Linked DNA regions of Homo sapiens. The protein of the gene in region 1 purifies or fractionates together with the protein of each later gene. This does not show direct contact. Each region holds a gene or a part of one and is shown in the gene's direction. Other genes may lie near its edges.

The links.
Region 2: the proteins of ANGPTL3 (region 1) and GULP1 purify together in Homo sapiens (affinity purification with mass spectrometry; 2 studies listed by BioGRID and IntAct, with this or other methods). This does not show direct contact.
Region 3: the proteins of ANGPTL3 (region 1) and CCDC91 purify together in Homo sapiens (affinity purification with mass spectrometry; 2 studies listed by BioGRID and IntAct, with this or other methods). This does not show direct contact.

Annotation. Positions count from the first base shown.
Region 1 is NC_000001.11:62,592,601-62,600,519, forward strand, and holds the start of ANGPTL3 (angiopoietin-related protein 3 preproprotein), read left to right. Parts: upstream 1-4,919; 5' UTR 4,920-4,966; coding exon 4,967-5,461; intron 5,462-6,095; coding exon 6,096-6,206; intron 6,207-7,919. UniProt on the Homo sapiens protein: Acts in part as a hepatokine that is involved in regulation of lipid and glucose metabolism. Proposed to play a role in the trafficking of energy substrates to either storage or oxidative tissues in response to food intake.
Region 2 is NC_000002.12:188,294,157-188,302,304, forward strand, and holds part of GULP1 (PTB domain-containing engulfment adapter protein 1), read left to right. Parts: intron 1-43; exon of another isoform or gene 44-237; intron 238-3,335; exon of another isoform or gene 3,336-3,432; intron 3,433-8,148. UniProt on the Homo sapiens protein: May function as an adapter protein. Required for efficient phagocytosis of apoptotic cells. Modulates cellular glycosphingolipid and cholesterol transport. May play a role in the internalization and endosomal trafficking of various LRP1 ligands, such as PSAP.
Region 3 is NC_000012.12:28,542,968-28,551,115, forward strand, and holds the end of CCDC91 (coiled-coil domain-containing protein 91), read left to right. Parts: intron 1-6,095; coding exon 6,096-6,206; 3' UTR 6,207-7,199; downstream 7,200-8,148. UniProt on the Homo sapiens protein: Involved in the regulation of membrane traffic through the trans-Golgi network (TGN). Functions in close cooperation with the GGAs in the sorting of hydrolases to lysosomes.

The DNA of each region.
Region 1 (7,919 bases):
TCAGAAAGAGACAAACTTAAAAAGAGGGTAACAAGGAGGGGAGCAAATTATGTACATAACCAGATGATTCGCAAAGACGGCAACAGAGATGGCCAGCAAAACAAACTAGATATATACTTGTCTATTAGATTTATCAACATTTTTTGCCTTTTTCATTAAAAGCATTTGTAAAAGGATATAGGAAAAGAGGAACTCTCATATACTCCTGGCAGGGATGTAAATTGGTACAACCCTTTTGAAGGACAATCTGACAAAAGCAATCGTAAGTTACAAGTCAACATCTATGAATGTATATGAAAATATTTATATACATACATCACCACCATAAAAGCATTTTCTATACATACTGTTTATAATTAGAAAATTGGAAACAAATGATTAAAAGGGGGCTGATTAAATTAAGGTTCATCTATATAACAGGATTATGCAGCTATTAAAAAGGACGTGGTAACTCTATAGACATTCATAGGAAAATAAATTTTAAAATACTAAGATCCTGAATGATATATATATCATGAGCTATTATACATAACAAGATCCCACTTGTGTTATAAAAAATTATGTTTAGTCATTCAAAGGGTCTGGTATGATAGACCCAAAATGTTAATAGAGTCGAGATTTTTATTTTTTATAGGTTTTTGAAATACCTGAATTTTCACAATAAGTACTTTGCACATTAAAAATCTTAGCTGGGCATGGTGGCTCACGCTTGTAATCCCAGCACTCTGGGAGGCCAAGGTAGGCAGATCACCTGAGGTCAGGAGTTCGAGACCAGTCTGGCCAACATGGTGAAACCCCGTCTCTACTAAAAATACAAAAATTAGCCAGGCTTGGTTGGGGGTGCCTGTAATTCCAGATACTCGGGAAGCTGAGACAGGAGAATCGCTTGAACCCAGGAGGGGGAAGTTGCAGTGAGCTGAGATCACGACGCTGCACTCCAGCCTGGGCAACAAAGAGCAAAACTCCGTCTCAAAAATAAATAAAGAAAAAATCTTTACATGTCCAAAGATACGGCTGTTCAACTAAAAAATATATATGTATAAAACTTAACATGTTAATAGTGAACACACAAAACAGTAAGATAGATAAAATTATTCCTTCAAAGCTCACTTAACCTCTGGATCTACACTGTCCAAAAAGACGGTCTAATGAGACAATTGAGCACTTGATAGGTGAGTGGTTCTAACTGAGATATGTTCTCAGTATAAAACATACAATAGGATCTTCCTATACAACATTAATTAAAAAACAAACTATTGTAGTTAAAAAGGAAAAAATTAGAGATACTATGTAAAAAAGAGCCAAAATACCTTGTATTTTATTTGAAAGACATATCTCCATAAGATTACACAACCTCGTGTAGGATAAAGGACTTTGCTTTGCTTGGAATTTAAACAATTTAGGCTCTTAAATGTCCTAAAATTCTCTGTAGCTAAGAAATTTTTATATTGGTTCCTAGGAACTAGGAATCCTTAAATTAGGCCCTACATTTGCTTACAAGTTTATTTTCCTTGGCATAAAATTTTTTAGTTTTTACATTACTGGTTATATTTGATCAGGGTTCTATTTAAATAGGCACAAGTTCAAGCAAAGATCAGATTCTGCTTTTAGCAGTGTGTACTCAGACAGGAAGTATTAAAAGGCAGGCAGAAAATCCTTTATAAAATTACTACTTTCAATGCATTTTCCCACGTTGAAATGCTTCTGCAGTTTATAATTAGGCAAATTACTTTAATTATAATCAATAATGCTGTTCAAATTACTATAAGAATTATACAGATATTTATACCAAGAGACAATATACTAGAAACCAAGACTACGTGACCATTACCTCTACTCTGTCAGTGTTATTTGTGAGAAATTGCACAAATTTTGCAAAAAGTGTTAGTATCCTACTACAGTAGGATATAATATAGAAGGAAATAATTTCATAAAGCCTGTCTTTGGTACTAGTGCTCAGTTACTTTCATTAACTAAAAAAGGGGCTACTCTTCAAATTCCCTTCTCTAAAAAGAATGTACTATATCAAAAGGGGGTAAACACTACTACGTATACATTCTGCACTTAGAAATCCCTATATGTTGATTTTATCATTCTCTTATTCAATAAATATTGTTTCTACAATGTGTAAGGCATTACTGTACTAAAGCATTATAAGGAATATAAGTTAAAAACACATACAAATCTTGCCAATCAACAGCTTATAGTGTAATAGGGGAGAGAAGCTGGCCCATCTATATTCTCCCTCAACTAGCAAGTGGATGAAATATCAGGGTCAATAGTTATAAGCCACAAAAGCTGACAGCTTAATTAAGAGAAGTTTTGAAATATGTATTTCATGACCAATAATTACAACTGTAACTTTTCTATTTAAAGAAGGAGAAAATTTGAATTTCTTCTCTAGCTCAACATACACTTCTATAATTCCATTACATGAACCAGAGTAAAGGGTAAGATGGAAATGAAGAATATTTTCTTACCCTTTTGTGGTTCTATATTGGACACTTAAAAATCATACACAACCTAATCAAAAGATGTAATTCTTTAAAAAGGTACGAGACCAAAATTCAGAAAATCTAGACTATAACAAAATTTCTCAATTTACATTATCTTAATATGCAATTAATTTTCACCAGTAAAATACTATAGTATGGGTACAAATGCATTGATTAGTTCTAATTACAAAAATGGCTAATATATAATACTGTGTAGTGTTTATGATACATCAGATAATGTTCTAAGTGCTCTGAAAATATAAACTTTTAATCTTTTATACGACCCTATAAAATAGGTGTTATTCTCACTGGAGAGATGAGAAAACAGGGGTTCAGAGATGTGAAGTAATTTGACCAAAGGTCACAAAGCTGAAGAATATGAAATCCGGGATTCTGATTCAGGCAGTCTTATTCCAGAATCATGCTCTTAACCACTATGGAATACTGCCTCTACTGTAACTATTATACCCAAAACCCTTAATCCTAAGTCATCAAAAGGAAGAGCCTCTATTTTACACAATGAAGAGGCATTTCTAAGAATAGAAATTTAGGGACGAGCACAGTGGCTTACTCCTTTAATATCAGCACTTTGAGAGGCTGATATGGGAGGTTCACTTGAAGTCAGGAGTTCAAGGTCAGCTTGGGCAACATAGTGAAACACAGTCTCTACAAAATATTTAAAAATTAGCTGGGTGTGGTGGCATGCATCTATAGTCTCAGCTACTTGGGAGACAGAGGGAGGAGGCTTGCTCGAGCCCAGGAGTTCGTGGCTATAGTGAGCTATGATCATGCCACTGCACTCCAGCCTGGACAACAGAGCAAGACCCTGTCTCTAAAAAAGAAAAGAAATTTGGAAATGGTTTATTTTGTATTAACAATTTATAATTTACACTGAAATTTATTATGATAAAACTTTTCCCTGTGTTAAAAAGCTATTAACTTTATGAAAAATTTCTTTTAGGTAAGGTTGATTATATATACCCACACACATACACAGGTTAAAAGTTAGTTTCATGTGACATAATAACTAGCATTTTGAGCACTACCTGTTTGCCCAGCACTGTTCTAAGTGCTCTACATGTATTATTGTTAAATTATCATAACACTATGAATTATGTACTATAATTACCCCAGCTTTACAGATGAGGAGACTAATCCATGGGGAGGTTAAGTAACTTGTCCAAGGCCAGACAGCTAGAGCCGGCTTTTGGACCCACACCACAGTCTGACTCCAGCACCCATATTCTTAACAATTTCACCATATTAATATGTCAAGATTAAGCAGTTTTAAAGGATGCTATTTTCTCACAAATTTCTTAATATGAACACTCAATAAGAATAATCACTAATATAAGCATTTAGTATTTTTTTAACACTAAGTTGGAAGCATAGTGGAACATTTATTTTTAGAAATATTATTAATTGGCTGGGCTCACGCTTGTAATCGGCTGGGCTCATGCCTGTAAATTTTGGGAGGCCAAGGTAAAAGAATTGCTTGAGCCCAGTATTTCCAGACCAGCATGGGCAATACATTAAGACATCATCTTTAAAAAAAAAATGTTATTAATCTCCTCTTTTTGTTAAATGTATATTATCAAAATTGTTACTAAGCTAACAAACTTCAGAAAAACTTATGATGGGCAAGCTGCTTGTGACATTGAAGGTATTTAAGATTCAATTCTAGTTTGGTCCTAGATGACCACATATCCATTGTTCCTTCAACGAGCACATGGTAAAGAGCCTAGAACACAGAGACACAGAACACAGTGGAGAAAAGGGAGTGAAATGTCTTTAATGACACTTACTATATATGGGATTTTGTGACAATATACAAGGATGGTTAAGACATATAAGGTGATGCAAAAAAACATATTAACAATTATAGTGACAAAAAATGAGGAGCATATAATTATACATTGATTTATACAGAGTACCAGAGGAACACAGCATTGAGAGCCGTAACACCACCTGAGGGAGTGGAGAAAGGCTTCAGAGAGAAAGTGTTTTTTGGAATGGATCACTGTTTCCAAAAGAACTAAAGTACAGTTTGAGAAATGCATACTTAATTCATTACTTTTTTCCCCTCAACTTTAATAATAAATTTACCCAACAAAAAAGTTTATTTTTGACTTGTAAATCTCTTAAAATCATAAAAAAGTAAAATTAGCTTTTAAAAACAGGTAGTCACCATAGCATTGAATGTGTAGTTTATAATACAGCAAAGTTAAATACAATTTCAAATTACCTATTAAGTTAGTTGCTCATTTCTTTGATTTCATTTAGCATTGATCTAACTCAATGTGGAAGAAGGTTACATTCGTGCAAGTTAACACGGCTTAATGATTAACTATGTTCACCTACCAACCTTACCTTTTCTGGGCAAATATTGGTATATATAGAGTTAAGAAGTCTAGGTCTGCTTCCAGAAGAAAACAGTTCCACGTTGCTTGAAATTGAAAATCAAGATAAAAATGTTCACAATTAAGCTCCTTCTTTTTATTGTTCCTCTAGTTATTTCCTCCAGAATTGATCAAGACAATTCATCATTTGATTCTCTATCTCCAGAGCCAAAATCAAGATTTGCTATGTTAGACGATGTAAAAATTTTAGCCAATGGCCTCCTTCAGTTGGGACATGGTCTTAAAGACTTTGTCCATAAGACGAAGGGCCAAATTAATGACATATTTCAAAAACTCAACATATTTGATCAGTCTTTTTATGATCTATCGCTGCAAACCAGTGAAATCAAAGAAGAAGAAAAGGAACTGAGAAGAACTACATATAAACTACAAGTCAAAAATGAAGAGGTAAAGAATATGTCACTTGAACTCAACTCAAAACTTGAAAGCCTCCTAGAAGAAAAAATTCTACTTCAACAAAAAGTGAAATATTTAGAAGAGCAACTAACTAACTTAATTCAAAATCAACCTGAAACTCCAGAACACCCAGAAGTAACTTCACTTAAAGTAAGTAGAAAATAAAGAGGGTTCATGTTTATGTTTTCAATGTGGATCTTTTAAAAAAAATATTTCTAAGGCATGCCATTTGAAATACTTTGTTGCATTGTTGAAATACTTTTTTTTCCAAGAAAAATAATCTCCAGAAAATAAAATTTCCTATTATAATTTCAAGTTAGTTTTTTGTTTCCCTAATGTTATATATGAAAACACTGAAAATTTGCATTTTATATGAAAATTACAAATCGGTTAAATTATACAATCTAGAACACTATGTCATTACACTATTGTAAATTACTGAAGGTAAGTAAAAAGTTAAAAAAAATTTAAAACTATTCTCCAGTGTTTAAAACAGATTAAATAATACAGTAAATGGAAAAGATTTATTCATATGAAAATATGCTGGGCTTTTTCTTTTAATTGAAGTTCAGAAAATCAAATTTTAGAGATAGTACAATTTAAATAAAATGTTAAGGACAAAAATATGTGCTATTTGAAAGAAGCATACAAGGGGAAGGAATTGCCAATATTCATTTTTCAAATCCATTATTAGTTTAAAAATTTAGATTATGATAGTGTTACAGGAAATTAATAGAAAAGAAAGAGGAAAGCAACTTATAACCAACCTACTCTCTATATCCAGACTTTTGTAGAAAAACAAGATAATAGCATCAAAGACCTTCTCCAGACCGTGGAAGACCAATATAAACAATTAAACCAACAGCATAGTCAAATAAAAGAAATAGAAAATCAGGTAAGTCAGTATTTTAATGGTATGTCCCATCTTTCACACAGGTCTGTAAAAACACTGAATCCTAAAATTATTTACAAGCTTTAACTGGATCATGAGTAAAATTATCACATCAGCATAACTGTTAAAATTGCAGGCTCTGAAGCTAATAAACTACCTGCATTTAAACCATGGCTCTAAAACTTTGTGTGACCTTGAATAAATTACTTCACCCCTTTATCTCTCAGTTTCCTCACATATACTACAAAGATAATAACAGAACTTATAGGATTATTGTAAGAAAAAAAATTAATTCATAGCAGCCAATGTCATCTTACTAAAATTCAAATTAGATCATGTTTCTCTTTGCTCAAAACCACACAATAGCTTTCCATTTCACTCATATTGGCTCTTTAGACCAAGATTACCCAACCCTTCGTCATCTCACTGACTTCACCTCCTCTACTCTAGTTATTCTGACCGCTTTACCAGTATTCAAACACATCAAACATACTGCCACCTCAAAGCCTTTGCCCTTGTTGTTTCCTCTAACTGGAACGCTCTTCTGCCCTGGTATCTACGTGGCCCACTCTCTGATTTCCCTTAGGGTCGTTATCAAACAAAAAATTCCCAATGAAGACTTACAAGGTCACTTAACCAAAAATCACAACCGCCTGGTCCCATCCCTGAAAACTTCTACTTCCTTAGCTACTTTTCTCCTGCACACTCACCTTTATTTAACATAACATAAATTTTAGTTATTTATCTCTTCTATTCCTGCACTAAAATGTAAGCTCTGTGAATACAGGGATTTTTTCCATTATCTTCATATTTTCCATTATTTGTATATACTCCAGAATATAGAATACTGTATGGCACACAGTAGGCATTTCTGTTGAATTAATAAATGTAATGTCATATTCACACAGAAGCGTGTGCTATGATTATTATTACTTGGATTACTAGAAATAGTGTGCCTCATAATTAAAGGTCAACATTCAACAATGTAATTAATCTACAATGTAAACATCTGGTGAAGTGACAGAGGGAAGCACTTGTTTAGAAAAAAGCTATGTCAGAATCCATGTATTCTAATATGCAGTACAATAGTTTAAAAATATTAATAATACTCTCAAACAGCTATTCAAGAGGATTCAAAAAACATAATATAAACTCAGAGAAACTGGTAAACAAAATCATTTTCAAGAGATATAAAACAAATATTATTACCAATTTCCACTAAACAAACATAATGTTAGTAGTGCTGCTAAAAGGTTTTTTATCAACTACTTTTGGTTTCCATACTTTCCTTCTTATGATGTTATTATTCTAAATTCTTTTCAATTATATCTTTTACTATGATTAAATGAACCTGCTCCCCAAAGCAAAATGTTACTATAGTAATATACATTGTGTCTAAAAATAAAAATGTGTGAAGAAACCAAAACAATGAATTTCTGAGTTGGAAGAAGAGTTAGATCATTTAACTTTCTCATATTTAAATTAAAAAAACAAAACTCTAAAAATTTAAGTAACTTTAAGATCACATAGTTACTTAGTAGAAAAGAGTAATACCCAGCAAGCAAACTTTACAATAGATCCTTTTAAATAAGGTCCTAGGAAATATCATTCATGCCAGCATCAAAAAACTAACACTAATAATGCAAGATATTATATATTCTGCTTTTCTTACTGTCAATGAGAAAAACTATCATTCAATAAATTGCAAACCCAACA
Region 2 (8,148 bases), on another chromosome or scaffold:
GCAACTTCAATTCCTTGACTTCGGCCTTACTTTGTTTTCATAGCAGCAAGAATTGAAGACTTAAGGGTTTGAGCAGATGGTTTTCTACCTAAATTGAATAATTCAATTACGTATTCTCAGCTAGCATGGATTTGGGTCATGGAATTAAAGTAGAAACGTATCCGGCATGACTTCTTTGTGCTTATCAAAAGTGATCCTGATAAACAGATCTTGCTCTTTCATGTAAAGAAGTAAAAGGTGAGATGATCTCAGTATTTCACACATTTGCCCTTTACTGCTTCCTAATTCCAAACCAGCTAGGAACTCAAAGCCTTAACTGCAATTCAGACTCTTCTTTGTGTATTAAAGTTGTGTATGTTTCATCTCTCTTTTTTTTTTCTTCAGAGAGGTGGGTTGTAGGTTTACTATTGTGGGCTTAGGGGTTAAATGGTTAAAACAAACAAACAAACAAACAAACTAATGTGGTTTATATTTCCTCTGTATTTAAGAGTTTGAGATTGTGAATATTAGCCTGCTTTCTGAGACTCACTTTGTGAATCACCCTCAGCCAAATGTTTTCCCTGACTATGATTTCAGTTTTTCCACTTGCAAAGTAAAGAAACTTTCCTTTACATAATTACAAGATTATTGTGAGAATTAAAGAGATGAAATAATGTTAATAGGCTTTTCGACATAAAGGTCATAGGATTTCTGACTCAGCTGACTCAGTTGAGTTTATGGGGATAAAATAGGAATACTTCTATGTTGAATACCCATGTAATAATGACATATCTGGATCTAATTTATAAAAATTACCACTTTTACATTTTAATCATAGCTTTAATTTAATCATACATTTTAATTTTTGAGGATATAAGGGAGATTTTGTTATGGTTAAGGCTGAGTCATTTTCTCAAACAGAAAAGAACAATTAGCACATTCATTTATTTTTATTTCAGTTTATATTTATACACAAGACCAGTTATTTTTAAAGTCCAGCTTAATTTTACCTTTATGAGAAGTTACCAAGTATATTCACAGAACTTGGCTCTCTTCTCAGAAATAATGCTTGAGAAGCTGAAATATATTTATGACATACAAACAGACTTTCTTTTCTTAATGGCCACAACAATTTCCTTAAGAATTTGGAGGATAGATTTTGGAGCCATTCATTAATAAATCCAGCCAATGTTTGTTGCATGCATATCATGCATCATCGGGCCTGTATTCCAATCAGCACCGAACTTCTCAGCTCTGTGATTTCTGTGCATGTTATTTTACTTCTTAAACATTTTTCCAACATATCATTTATTGCCTATGTTTCTGTCTATAATTTATGAGCCTGTTCATTGTTGATTCATTATGATCATTGTGAAATATTTACTTTTTAGTGTGACATGTCAATTAGTAAAATATACTACATATTTTTATGGTTCATTGTACTGTGCTACAGTCATGGATGTTTAACTTAACTCTTTTTCGGGTGAACAGATCAACTTATTAGAGAAAACAGAATAAGTATAGATAAATTGTTTAAAGGATAAAGTCTTTTGCTAAAATACCTAGTCATAGCTTTTATTTTTAGACTTTATATTATAATTAATAGTGAATCTGTAAAAAGCACGTGTATATGGGATATAGTAGTTGGGTTGAAACTTACACTATGGGTATCCTTGAACAAGTGGCTGTTTGAGGATATATTAGGGTAATTTTAATATAAAATGTCAAATTTTACCTTTCATTTTAAATTAGAAATCCTTAAAATTCTTATTTCCATTGATGAATGGTAGGTGATTTTAATTTAAATTTTACTTAGCAGAGTGATGTATTTGTGATTCAATTCGCGATATTGCAATTTGTTTTCTAAAACCTCTAAAGAATAAAAAAAGTTATTTTATTTCAGTATAATAATGAATTCAAAGATAGTTACAGAAGCTAACTGCATAACTGCCATGAGCCCTGGTCCCTAAACGTATTAGAGGCTGGTGGATCTAATATTGTTTGCCTTAATGCATTTAGAGATCAGGAAACTTAAGCTTTTTCCCATAAGAGCATAAAATATACTCAGATTGGAAGAGGAAAAAATGGTATAACTTTGAATGGAGAAATCGCTTCACTTTCAAATACTGGGGATATGAAATTGAAATCAGGCCTTTATTTTTAAAGAGAATGGCTAAAAGTCATTGTTCCAGAGTAAGACTTAGAAAACAATGCTTATACTGTTTTCAGGCCCTTGTTATTTGCGAGTTTTTTGTTTGTTTTATGCCTAAGAAATGTTTTCAGCCACTCTAATGATGCTTACCATGCATGATTGTCATCAGAGGACAGTTAATTGACTCAAATATTGTGTGGGATAGTAAGTGTCAATTTTCTGTTTACATTGAAATGGTATAGTTATGGCGAATTTGAAATTAGTTTTGTCTTTCAGTGTAGTATACTTAAAAATAGTTTTGAAAAGGCTGCCCTAATTTGCACACATAATATGAATAAGTAAGTTAACTTATATAGAAATTAAGATTTTCAGTATATTTTGTGCTAAATTGCAAAGATTAATATGGCTTTTTAAAGGAAGTTTTGAATAGCCTTGTATGTATTTTCTAGGATGCAACTAAGAGAGTGCATCTAGATATCAATACCTGCCTTTATTTCATGTTTGTTTTTTGCTATTAACATTATATAAATGTACCTATACATCAGCTGTATCATATACCTCCTGATGAAGAAGTTCAGAATAGACCTTAGAAACTTCCATATTTTGGGGGACTACTTTCTCTCTGTCTCTCTGTCTCTGTCGTTCTCTCTCTCTTTGTCTGTCTCTCTCTCTGTCTCCATTTCTTTCTCCCTTTCTGTGTGTGCATACTTATGATACATATATATTCTTTGATGTTTCTCTATTTGTGCTATAGTTTTTCTGTAGGGAAAAATAGCTTCAGTTAATTGATATTTTTGAGCCCAATTTTAACAACTAATTAAAAATGTTTCCCAGATAAGTATTGCTAGAAATCCTAGAAATCCTTTTTTTTTTCTTTTTTCCAAATTCTAAAAGTGTTTTTAGACTTCTATTTATACCTCCGAAAGAAGAGAAAAATAGTTGGCAAGATCTTCTACCTACATTCTTTGTTGTAGGCTCTAATGATGGCATACTCATGGAAGCCCTTTCTACTCTTCTTAAGTAGAACACAAGCACATGTACAGTTAACTACTGTAAGAAGGTAAATTCACTACTTAGAAGTTAGATACTACTGATAAGTTTATCAGGTATTGTGAAGTGAGAATTTTATACAAATGTAGTGTTTTCCTGGTATGGTACAGCTTTTTCTTAATATTAGGTGTTACAGTTGATCCATTTCTTGAAACTTCATCCACCAGTCCTCCAGGAACATCAAGGATCTTAAACTTTGCCAGAGCTACAAAGGCAAAGTTTAAGATCCTTGAAGTTCCTGGGGGAACCATGGATGGCTATCCTTATTTCTATAAGAGAGGAGACTGAATACTGTGGGCTCAGTCTTCAGTCTACCCTCTTATAGAAATAAAGACAATCATTTCAGAGCATACATAATCTACTGACTGAATCATTAATGATTTGCCTGTTTATAGCTGTATAATATTTCATGAGGTGATAACTATTGTTCTCATTTGGTTTGTATTTAAATTAGATAATATCAATTTTAAATATAATTTTAGCCAAAAAAAATCAAACAGAACATTTGTAGTATGGTAGCAAACGTGCAAATTTGGGATAAAAAATTGAAATAAGAGAATAAATGTGATTTTAGCTTCTCAATTTTTTTCATAGCCATTTATAACCATCAAGAGATACCATGTTTTAAGTAAAATTTTAATAGCAAATAGGTTCATTTACCCAGATTTCAACCTAGGTGAATTAAAACATAGGGTTATAAGTACTAATGAGAGTTTTAAGAAACAGTATTTTGTAAAGTATCTTTGAAGGTCAAACTACATGTTATGCTCTGTAATTTATTTTATTTTTGTCTGCTTTGAGGAACTGTGTAGTAATAAAGGACTTTGGTTGATGATCAAACTCTCCTTTTACTTCCTTGATGATGTGTGTTATTATAGTCATAAAGATGTCCAATAACATAAACACTGAACTTTACTAGTAGTGCAAATAAATACAGAGAAAGTTTGGCTGATTAGAAAGAACAATTGCATAACTGAATTAATTTCAAAGCAATTTATCTCTATGCTGAATATGTTAATTAAATATAATTAGAGGGTGTTTATGGATTGTAGTATCTCAGAATATAGTTTGAGAGAATTTTTAAGGAGTCACATTTGAGTAAACAAATTTTATTTGAAATTACGTAAATGCAATATGAAATGGCAAAAGTCTATTGGTATTTTAGATTTATAAAATAGCATTGTTTTAGAGTAACAATGGCTATTGCTTTAAATTTTTATGAATTATTTTTTCTGTTTTAATGCATCACCATGACTGGATATGTAGGAGAAAAACCTTTAAGCTTCTTAGCAGTAAATCAGTAAGAGGTCTCATATTGCTAATGTCTTTAGTCATTTTAAAGGAAGAACTACTAAATTTGTAAAATCTGAGTTATCATAGGTTTAGCTGATTACATTAAGCAGACTAGGAAATTCATGATCAATTTGGAAAAATAAAATTTTCTAGAGTAGTACAGATGAGGTTTTAGAGAACAACATTTTAGACTTGATGTTGTTGGAAGTAAATGCTCGGTGCTGCCAAGTGAATATAGCACTCAGGCAAAAGTTTGCTCAGCAAGGCAATTTACTTCTATAAAAGGGTGCCTCTCACGGATGGAGCAATGGCAAGAGCACACCAGACAAGGGAGGAGAAGGGGATCTTACTATTAATGCAGCTAGTCCCTACTGCTTGTTTTTCCCCTATTGGGTAGGGTTGGACCGCACAGTCTAAGATAATTCCAACTGGCTATTTTAAAGACAGCAGGGGTATGAGCTGGAGTGGCGGGGTGAGAAGCTTTGGTGGGAAGGACGGTTACAGAGCAGGTGACCAAGGATGACTAAGGACAGAGCAGGTGACTAAGGAGGGAGCAGGTGACTAAGGATGACTAAGGACAGAGCAGGTGACTAAGGAGGGAGCAGGTGACTAAGGATGACTAAGGACAGAGCAGGTGATAGAGGCTAGGAGGGGGTTGTTTACTAAAGCTAGGGACAAGGAGATGTAAAGAACGAGGAAGTTAAACTTTCAAATGGAAAACAAAGAACAGGGAAGCTCAATATACTAACATATTGGTTCTTTGAAGAGGAATTTACTGTATCCTACAATGTAATGAATCTTTCTTTGGGACTTTCTTATTCAATGAGATTTTGTCTTTATTCAGTGATTTTCCATTCACTTAATATACATTTGAAGTCTTTCCCCCCTTCTCATTCTGGGAAATATAACTGTGTTTAAACTGTGCATCTGCAAATAAAGAGATTCTGATATGATACAGTTGAATTTAATAAATACTTATCAAATAACACTTGTTCTTTTTGTAGTTGTGTGATTAGTAGGTGACAGAGACCTCCTCTTATTAACTTAAATAGAAGTTGGTATTTCTATATAATTCTGAGGTACAGTGCAGAGGATGTTGAGGAAGGAGGAGTGGGGAAAGCGGGTATTCACCAGTGTGAAGGGAAGCAGTGTATGGAAAGAATGTGTGCAGGTGATTCTTAGACCAAGTCACAGAGGATGAGGATGAGTTGGGCAGGCATTGAAAAGGGACAGTGTCAGTCAGAGCAGGTGGGATAGGCAAGAAGGCATGAAGCCATGAATGTGGTTTAGGAGAACAACTTGTGGATTTTACAGTTATAGAGATGTTCCTCCTTTATGTTTCCATGTTCATGAACTAACCATTAGTAATTACATAAAGGAGTTTTAGCTGGATTAATAGTTTTAGCTGAATAATTTTAGCTGGATTATCTTGCAAAACAACCATCTTGTTTTTCTTTCTTTTTTTCCATTTCTCCAGACCTGATCAGCATGTAATTGGAATCACAAGGAGTAGGTTGTGCTCTCGATTTCATATTTATATTTAATTTCAGAACATGCAAATTAAAAAAATTTTTAATCACAGCATTAACTATATTGGGAGGAGTTATGATTTGGCTCTGCATCTTGTCTTATATTTGTTTATTTTTCATATATAAAGAACAGATGTGTTAAATAGTTATCTACTTGGTAGTAAGTAACTGTGCCAGTATTAACAATTTTTATGAATAATATTGAAAAAATAATTTTTTTCTGAACATATGGAAACTTGATAATTTTTCTATGCATCATTGACTTATTTAAGATTATATATTTGGTTATATGGTGTGGATTACTTACTGATCATTGTTGATAAAAAATTTAAATGTGTGCTAAGAAGTTTGGAAAACGAATTTAGAATATGTACAAGTACAACAAATTACTATCTTATGAAGGGGACCTATAATTAAAACATATATAACATAATTTAGTTCGCTATATTCCCTTCTTTTTGCTTGGCTTGACCATTCTGTGAGATACATCTATTTTAAAATTAGTTTATTATTGATGTTTGATTTATTTGAAACTAATGATTCAACTTTATTTTTGAAGTATGTGACAAGAGCAGTCTCTTTAAACTTGTTAATTTGAAATAGTTAATATATAGAGCTTCACATTTATAAATCAGTTTAGTAGGTCTGGACCACCTTGAAGTTCCAGGGATGGGTCTAAGGTAATAGTTTTGTACTTGAAAATTGACAATACTGTCAAGATCACAATAAGAAATAACTGTCTTTCAGTCTCTTTCTGGCTTTTGGCTTCACTTTGTGTTTTCTGTAATGGTAAGCATCAAGCACCACTGACACTTATTTGCTTCCTTCTCCTGTTGAATGTCCAGGTTCCTGTTTATTTATTTATTTATTTTAGAGACAGGGTCTCACTCTGTCACCCAACCCGGAGTGCACTGGTGCAATCATAGCTCACTGCAGCCTCAAACTCCTGGACTCAAGTAATCCTCCCACTTCAGCCTCCCAAGTAGCTGAAACTATAGGTGCATGCCACCATGCATGGCTAATTTTTAAATTTTTACAATTCCTTCTAGAGACAGGTTCTCACTGTGTTGCCCAGGCTTGTCTAGAACTCCTGGGCTTAAACAATTCTCTGGCTTTGACCTGCCAATGTGCTGGTATTACAGGTGTGAGCACTGTACTTGGCTCCAAGTTCCCTTTTAATGACAATGACATTGGGTTAAACCAGGTGTGATTTTGTACCTGAAGTTAACTCTTCTTTCCGTTTCTTGCATTTCCATTTGTAAGAAGCATGTTTTCACTTTTGAGAGCTATATCACCTTCCTTGTACTGTGGCATAAATTATTGATAGTCCACTAAAATCTATTCCTTATTCTTCTTTTCCCTGGTATTATTCAAATGTCCACTCTTTCCCACATAACTCAGGGGAAGTCAATCCTACTCCTAATTCAAGGGAATTTTAGATTAGGTTCAGCTAAAAATCTTGGTGTTTCTATGCCCCTTGGCAGTGATTGTTCCTTGTCCCAGTTTTAGTCATATGTCACATGTCAGGTGAAATGAGAGGACTAAGGGGAATGGGTAGAAAAGATTTAGTTCCACTTAGCAAGGGAACATTGGATGAGAAAGCACATGTTGGCTTTTGATATTTGTCCTATCTGGAATACATGCTTCTTCAAATTGCTACAGGGATCATCTTTTGTCACGAGGAGATTCAGCTTGAGGGCAAAACAAATGCCTTAAAATGGCAGAAAAAATATAAAACCTTGGGTACTTGATGGAATCATTGGGTTCTTGACTCCCTACTATATTTCTGGATTTACTGCTGTGTGAGATAATGAATTTCTTTCTTTTTCAAACCAACTTGAATAAAATATTTGGCTACTTAAAATAGTATCCTAATTATAGCCATTATTAAATGATATCTTAATTTTGTAAATAAAAGTTTTAGAAGTAGTAATTTAGATTATTGAAGAAACTTTACAGACTACTTGGGTTTTGTAAATTTTAGATATGGTTAGTGCTATTAGTCTATAAAAACTTATTATTCAAATCACCATGCATTAAGTTTTTAATACAGTAGATAAGTCAATCATCTTATTAACTAGATTTATTTTAAAATGAATAAATTATGCAGGAGGTAGAGGCTAGCAAAACTAGGAATAATCTAAC
Region 3 (8,148 bases), on another chromosome or scaffold:
ATTTTCTCACAATTCTGTAGGCCAGAAGCCCCAAATCAAGATGTCATCAGGGCCATGCTCTCAAAGGCTCTAAGGAAGTCTGTTCCATGCCTCTGTCTTAGCTTCTAGTGATTCGGCCTCCATCTTCACATAGACTTCTCCTTTGTATCTGTGTCTCTGTTTCTCTTCGTGTAAAGACACTAGTGATTGGATTGAAGCCCTACCCTAATCCAGTAAGAGCCCATCTCAGTTTACATCTTAATTACATCAGCAAAAACCCTATTTCCAAATAAGCTCACATTCACAAGTGTGGGGGTAGGACTTGAACATATCTTTTTGGGGGACACAATTCAACCCATTACAATAATTATCTGTTGAATCGAATATCCCACTGTTCTCTTACAAGATCATGTGCTAGCAAGCTTGTGCAACCCGCCTTATTTTGTTGTTTTTGTTCTGTTTTGTTTTGCTTTAGGTTTTTAGCAGCTTGAAGCCGTGGTTTTTAGTTTCTGTTTCTAGTGATAAGCAGAAAAGAGCGATGGGGAAGGGACTTTACTGGCCCAATCAGAAACAGAAACTAAGAACCCATGACTGTATTCTCTTCCTTGGACATCCCCGAGTGTCCCAGGACTTAGTCCTGTAACCTTTTCTCTTTTATCCACTTTCATTCCCTAAATATTTTTATCTGTGCTTTAAATGCCTTCTATATGGAGATGACGTCCACGTTTTTATTTCAAGGCCTGATATCTCCCCTGAACTGCAGACCCCTATATCTGACATCTCCAACATGTCTGATGAGATTAGACAAATTTATCATGTCTGAAACAAAACAGTTTTCCTCTGGCCAACTCACTCCAGCTCCAGTCTATCATATCTCAGGATAGGACACTATTATTCAAAGAATCGCCTTTTATTTCTCTTTTCCTTTCATCTATACTTCCAATCCATCAGCAACTCAAGTTGGTCCTGTCTTAAAATCCTAAACCTGAACTGTTCTTAAGCCACCATTGCCAATATTCTGGTCAAATTTATATCTTTTCCAGACTGAAAGTCTCCTAGCTGGCTTTTCTTCTTCCACTCTTGTCCCGCTACAGTCTGTTTTCCACGTAATAATTTGTACGATATTTTTCAAACAAAGCATGGTCATACTCCTGCTGAAAACTCTCCAATGTCTTCCCATCAAACTGCAAACCTTTAGGGCCCTTTATGCTCTGGCCTCCATCTACTTCTCTGATCTCCTCCCCTACCAGTCTCCTCCTTGGTAATTTTGCTCCAATCTTAATGGATTTCTTACCAGTTCTCCATCAAACCAAGTCTGCACCCCCCTTTTGGAGTTTTTTCCTTGTGTTTCCAGCTACCTTGAGAATTTCTTTCCCCATGTTTTTAGATAGCTCCCTTCTTGTCTCTTTTCAAGTCTCTTAATTACCACCTTCTCTAAGTGGTCTTCTCTAGTCACTTTACCCATGAGTGGATTTGCTGGATAGCCATCCTAGCTCTTTGGAAAAATGAAGTCATTTTTAAGCATTAATTTAAAATATGTAGGAGTGTAAGTTGGAAAAGTAACATTGATAAAGGTAGATGTAACATGTTCACATTTCTTAGTGTATTTTGTTGGTAGAAGCTCAAAACATTGAAAGTGCAATTAGTACTATGTGTATTTGACACACACACACACATACACATACACACATATATATATTTCAAAACAATGAATTATATCTTTTTGGATGTGAACAGTCTTCTTAATAAACAGTCCAATTAAAATAAGCCAGATGTGTTTGTAATTGACTTTGAATGTTGCACTTTAGACCAATGTAAATTCACCATCATATTGCATTTTAATGACTGGCAAATAAAAAGCTAAGGTCAAGAGATGTTTTATTTTTCTTTTACTTTTGCAATGGCATGAAACACTCATGAAAGGGTAAATCTAATACATGAAATTATTAAGAAGACATGCTATTTCCCCCCACAAGCTTAATAAAATTAAAAATTTTAGTAAGTAGTATGCTTCTAAAAGGCTTTCAGCAGTTATACCAGCAAACTGAAGCCTAGTTGTCTATTTCAGAAACTTCAGAATTTCCAGATTTTTCAGATATGTGTAAGAGCTGAATAGAAATTAAAGCAACAGAAAATGGAAGAGAAAACAAATCGGTTAGAGCTACTCTATTATGAAGAGATTTTTAACCCCATATCAAAAAAATATTTGCCACCACTACTCTGGACATAATATTTTTCATTACTATGTCACAGAATACAAATCTTTGATTCACTTTGAAATGAAAGCCACAAATACAGAACTAAGTCCCATACCTTAAGGAGCAAAAAAGGTGAATATTTTGCCAAAATTCTTCTCGCCTCAATAAAGGATAAGAAGGTCATGCCTAATAAAACAGTAACTGTTGAAATTCAGGAATTTGCCAAGAACATCAGTTTGATGTATTTGTTTCAAAGAGAGGAATTCAACATCCTTATAAGAGAAAGGTTGTATGTGTTCCATCCCACAGCCATGATCTATGTACTATGCCCAAGAAGGACCCACAAAAGTGGAAGCTCAGCTTTGTGATGGCCCAATCTCTGTTTTCCTCCTCATACAGTATCGGTTCGCCTTGTTGCTTCTTAAAGTATTGTGCTCCTGTTTATTTAAAGGATTCTTACTTTCAGAGTGCTCTGGGGAGGGAGTGGTAAAGATGTGAAGTGAGCCTTGGCAGCTGCCTAAAACCAAAACCTTCATGCCTACCATCTTATAGTCAGTAATTCCTTGGTGACATCTAACACAAGCAAGAGAAGCGTGTGGTGTGTTTAAACAGAAATCTATCAAACTTTTTTTGTCCTTATATATATATCCTCTTAAAAAATTACAGAAATACTCCTTTTGAATGCACAAATTCAGATTATTGTTACTTAGCAACAGAGGTTGAATGCTTGTTACACATTGTGAAATTGTACTATATTCCCTCAAAAGGAGAAAAGTTTCTCATTTATCTAGCTTCTAAAAATTCTAAGATATTAAGTCATATTTGTTTTTAATGTATCTCCTGATTGTTCTGGGCGATTTGTGAAGGATTTTGAATTGTTAAAGCTAGCACATATGTTATATGTACACAAGTTATGAAGCATAATAGTAAAACAAACACCCATGAAGCCACCTCCAAACTGAATTACGTATCTCATCCTGCCAGATTCATCCTCCAAATACAACTATCCTCAGTTCAGTTTTTATTGCATTGTTTACTTACCTTAAAAAGAAATGGGTTTTTGCCTACTTATATGTCTCAAAATAATATACCGCTGAGTTCTGCTTATATTTTGTGCCTATGATAAAAGAGTTATGAGACTATCTGTAGTCTGGTCACTTCCTTCTTAAACTCAGTTTTCTTACAAATGCCCACTAATTTATATTCTTCTGAAATATTTTATATTGGCAATATATGTTATATTAAGGTTTATTATAAAGCTGTAGTAATTAAAATAGCATTACATTTGTGTAGAGATAGGTGAATTGTTCAAGGGAACAGGATGGAGAGCCTAAAGACAGGTTCCTGCATATATGGAAAGCTGATTTATAATTGGAGGTAGCATTGCCAACTACATATTCTTTGGCTCATACAATTTCCACAAGCTATACTAGCACGTGTATACAGAGGTCTGTGTTGAAGGATGTTCATTACAGCCTTAATTATAATAGCCAAATATTATGAACAATCTTAATGTCTGTGAATATAATGCTTTAGAATATTAAAATATCTGTTACATATATTATAACTATAAAATGAAAACTATGCAACGGTTTAAAAGGAAAAAAAAACAAGAGACACTGATCCTCTATAACACTGCAGTTGGGACTGATAACTTAGTATACTCTCTGGGAAGAAATTTGGCAATATGTATCACAATTTACAATATGCAGATGTGACAGATTTCAGTACCTTGAACATCTTTTGAAGGGTGTGCACTCAGGTTGTAAATTTTATTGCTTGAAAAACAACAAAAAAGTTAGAATAAACTTACATGTCTGTCAATGGGAAAGTAGCTAAATAAATTATGAAATACAGTTAAGCAATTTTTTAAAATGAGATAGGGAAAACTTCCAGTAATGGCAATGAAATAAAGTGATTGTGTGGACCCTCTCAAACTTAAGAATTATAAGGATTATAAGATGTGGACCACATATTTTTAAAAACCCATCTTTAAATGCTTAAAAACATCCAAAAGTAGACAGAAATCACTGGAGAATGGACTGGAACTGAGTATTGGTATATTCTTCTGTACTGTTTAATTTAGACCAAGTGCAAAATAGTTTTAGAAGCTGAAAATACTTAGATTTCAATCTGTTTTACATATATTAAAATGAAACTTTTAAAACTATGACTTTAATCTCCCATGTATCTTTTAGATTAGGTTAGCATGCTTTGGTTCTTAGCATTAAAAGTACATCTGTCATTTTCCAGTAGATTGCCTTGTTTGATTGGGGTTATGTATCTTGATTCACTCAATCTCAGCAAATATTTATTGCTTGTCTAACATGTGCCAGACCCCCTCTAGATGCTAGGGATAAAGTAGTTAGCAAGACAGACAAGATTTCTGCGTACCTGGGTCTTACATTCTAAGATCTCTTTTGTTTAATAGTCTTATAAGCATAAGGTATGTATTCACCTGAAGGTATCATCCAGTAGAGGAAGAAGGAAAAAAAACTGTGAGGAAAAATGATAAGCAGAAATCTTACTTCTGTATATATAATAGAATCTCCGAATATTGGAATTGAAGGGATTCAGTATAGTTCAATGATTTTACAGGAGCATTTTGCTAAATATAGTGATTCTGTTTGTTTAATTCTTAGAATATTTCAATATTTTAGTCATCCAATTTTTCAGCCATTTTGAGTATAGTAGATTATGGAAGTATACTTTAATGAGAATTATTGTTCAGGTTTGCCTTTGTGGGGGATGCAGGGGCTTGTGAGAAGAATGACAACTTTTACATAAGTATGACAAGTATATTATGAAATGGAATTTATTTGTCTTTTAATTCCTCCATTGTTCTGTAACCTATAGGGAATGTGTTTGCCTAGTTTTGTTATTTTTACCCTATGGGCAAATTTTTTAGGGCCAAAAAGTTTGAAGCTTTTCTTCTTATATTCAATAATGTTTACCATCCAGAGAGTTCTTTATTATATATAATCCAAATGATTTCCCTTACTAACCCTCTTGTTTCGTTTACCATATGAGTTTGCTATTGAAATATTAAAACATCCTAATAAAACATCTCTACCTTAGCCAAGGGACAAGAACAAAAAAAGTTTCAACAGTATCAAATATTTTGTGTGTTGTTTTATTTTTTTAAAACAGAGTCTCACTCTGTCACCCAGGCTGGAGTGCAGTGGCGCAATCTTGGCTCACTGCAACCTCTGTCTCCTGGGTTCAATAAATTCTTTTGCCTCAACCTCCTAAGTAGCTGAGATTACAGGTGTGCACCACCATGCGCAGCTAATTTTTTATATATTTAGTAGAGATGGTGTTTCACCATGTTGGCCAGGCTGGTCGCAAACTCCTGACCTCAAATGATTCGCCCACCTCAGCCTCCCAAAGTGCTGGGATTACAGGTGTGAACCTCTGCACCTGGCCTCAAATGTTTTTTAAAGCATACTTTTCCCCAAAACTTTCTCTAATTTCAGCAAATTGTTTATCTCCTCCCTTATAATTTGTTCCACTAAACCCTGTGTATGATGTGATTATGCTGTGTTTCTGTGCTATGTACTTATTTTGTTACTTGTATCTGTAATATATTTGTGGATGTTTGGTTGCGTATATACACTAAGAACTGGCATTTTAATACTATTTTATGTTTTCTGAAATCATTCTGATCAAATGTATGATATTTCTCTAATAACTGAGTAACAACATCAGTTATAAAACTATAATGATTATCATCTCATCTTAGATGATTTAGGCCAGAAAGAGTGACTTTACTGTCATTCAGTTGAAAGTACTATTTGATTTCCTAAATTGTCTCATCTGGAAAGTTTTTTCTAGTGGGCTTCAGAGACATAATATTCTTTATCCTTCAACTCAGTATTTTTTTTTCTCTTTCTCTCTCTCTTTAAAAAAATTAAACAGCTCGATCAAGTCATCCGCCAAAGAAGCCTGTCCAGTTTGGAACTGTTCCTCTCCTGTGCACAGAAACAGTTAAGTGCTTTAATAGCTACGGAACCAGTTGACATTGAATAAAAAGAACATGACAAACCCACACTGGCATTGGATAAATCATATTACACCTTCAAAATACACACTCTGAATTATAAAGATGTGTTTGTTTTCTTTCCAAATCATGTAGAATTGATTTCCAGTTCAAGGATAAACCAAAACAATATTTAGAACTATCAAGTGATCTAATTTATTTTCTTTTGGTTTCTTCTTTACATTTACTGTTATTTTATTATTATTAGTAGTAGCAGCAACAGAGTATGATATGACCCAAAAGCCATTGTAAAGTGCCACATTACCAAAATTAATTAAGTAAACTTTATAGCCTGTGGGAGTCTATTATATATTATTTTGCAAAAGTAGTAAATATATTATTGTTTCATGATGACTCTTGATGAGATGCTAGAATGTAACCATACATTTATCTTATTTTGAGGATAGAAATAGCATGGATTTCAACATCACTTATTTATCTGTATAATTGGAAATAAAACACCGATATGATAGAGAATCATTCCGGCATTACCTAACCTCTTCTGCAGTTGGATCTATGTATTTTCATTGGTCTACTGAAAACAAACAATACAATTAAAAGCACTAAAGATTATTATATTAATTCAACTTTGATCTGATATATCACTTAAACTAAAGGGGTGTGTGTGGTGTATGCTTGTTTCCTATTTCTGCTCTTTAAAGATACTTTGAATCAATAAAACCATTAGTCTACAAATCAAATTGTGAACTTAATCTCTAGAAAGAGAATATAACTCAGCCATTTATAGGAATTTAGGTTCAAGTACAGGATATATGAAATCTTTTCCCAGTATTTCAGAATGTACTTAATTCACAGGCAGGATGCTTCAATGCAAAATCATGAATATTTTTAATTCAAAACTAAAATGTCATTAATATGTATGTATGCAAATGTTTTATCTTATTTTCTGAAATGCATCTACTTTCATGGGCTTTGTACGTTTCTGAGATTTCTCAGTGTAATAAAAAGAGCTCCCAAACTTATTTGGTTGTTACTTTTTGTTTTTTTTTAAATTTCTTTAAAAAATATATTTTATTTTTTTTTAGAATTTTTCTTTCTCAAGTTGAAATTTTCTATCCTAAGTCGTTTTATCACTCGAATATTTTAAGAACAAGACTAGCCTTCCTTATAGACCTGCTTGGCCTTCTAGCCCTGCTAAATTTTAATTGTAGATCCTTAGACAAGCTGCCTAACTAGTTAGTTAGACAAGCTGCCTAACTAATTTGAGTCTCAGTTTTCTCATTTGTGAGGTAGAAAGAGTGATTTTTATAGGCTATTAAAAAAATAAATCTTGTAAAGTACCCCATATAGTGCTTGCTGGTATAGCCTCCAGTTTATAATAATTTCCCTTTCTCTGGAAATTAATCACAAAATACAGGTGTGAGTACCTACAAACAAGTGGCTAAAGCATAGCATTCTGCCCCTCTAACCTTGACTGACTGACCCACAGGTGAAGACCTGACCCCAAGTGGGCCTCTTATGAAAAGTCTTATGGTGACATCACTTCAGCTTCCTTACCATAGGGAGACAGACATGAACCCCTATTTCTGAGGTTAGAGGTGACCCCAACCCTTTTTTTCCTGAGTCTCAGATTCTGTGAGATACCTGAATATTCTTCCAATATGTTATATTGAATATTCCAATATTCTTCCACTTAACTTTTTTCCCTTAAGCTAGCCAGAGCCAGTTTCTATTATGTGCAACCAAAAAACATTACCCAAAGCAGTCAAGCACAGATCCCAGCAAGTAATCCCTGGATACTTGGCACTTGTTGGCTTCTCATTTCCTCTACCGTACCAATCCGCATCCAAAATGGGAACACTCTTTGATTTATTTTAAGGAATGTTAAAAATATAACTGAACCAAAGCCTCTATTGTCTAACAAAGCCAAGTAAATCACAGATACCCAAAACTATGAACAAACAGTGCCCT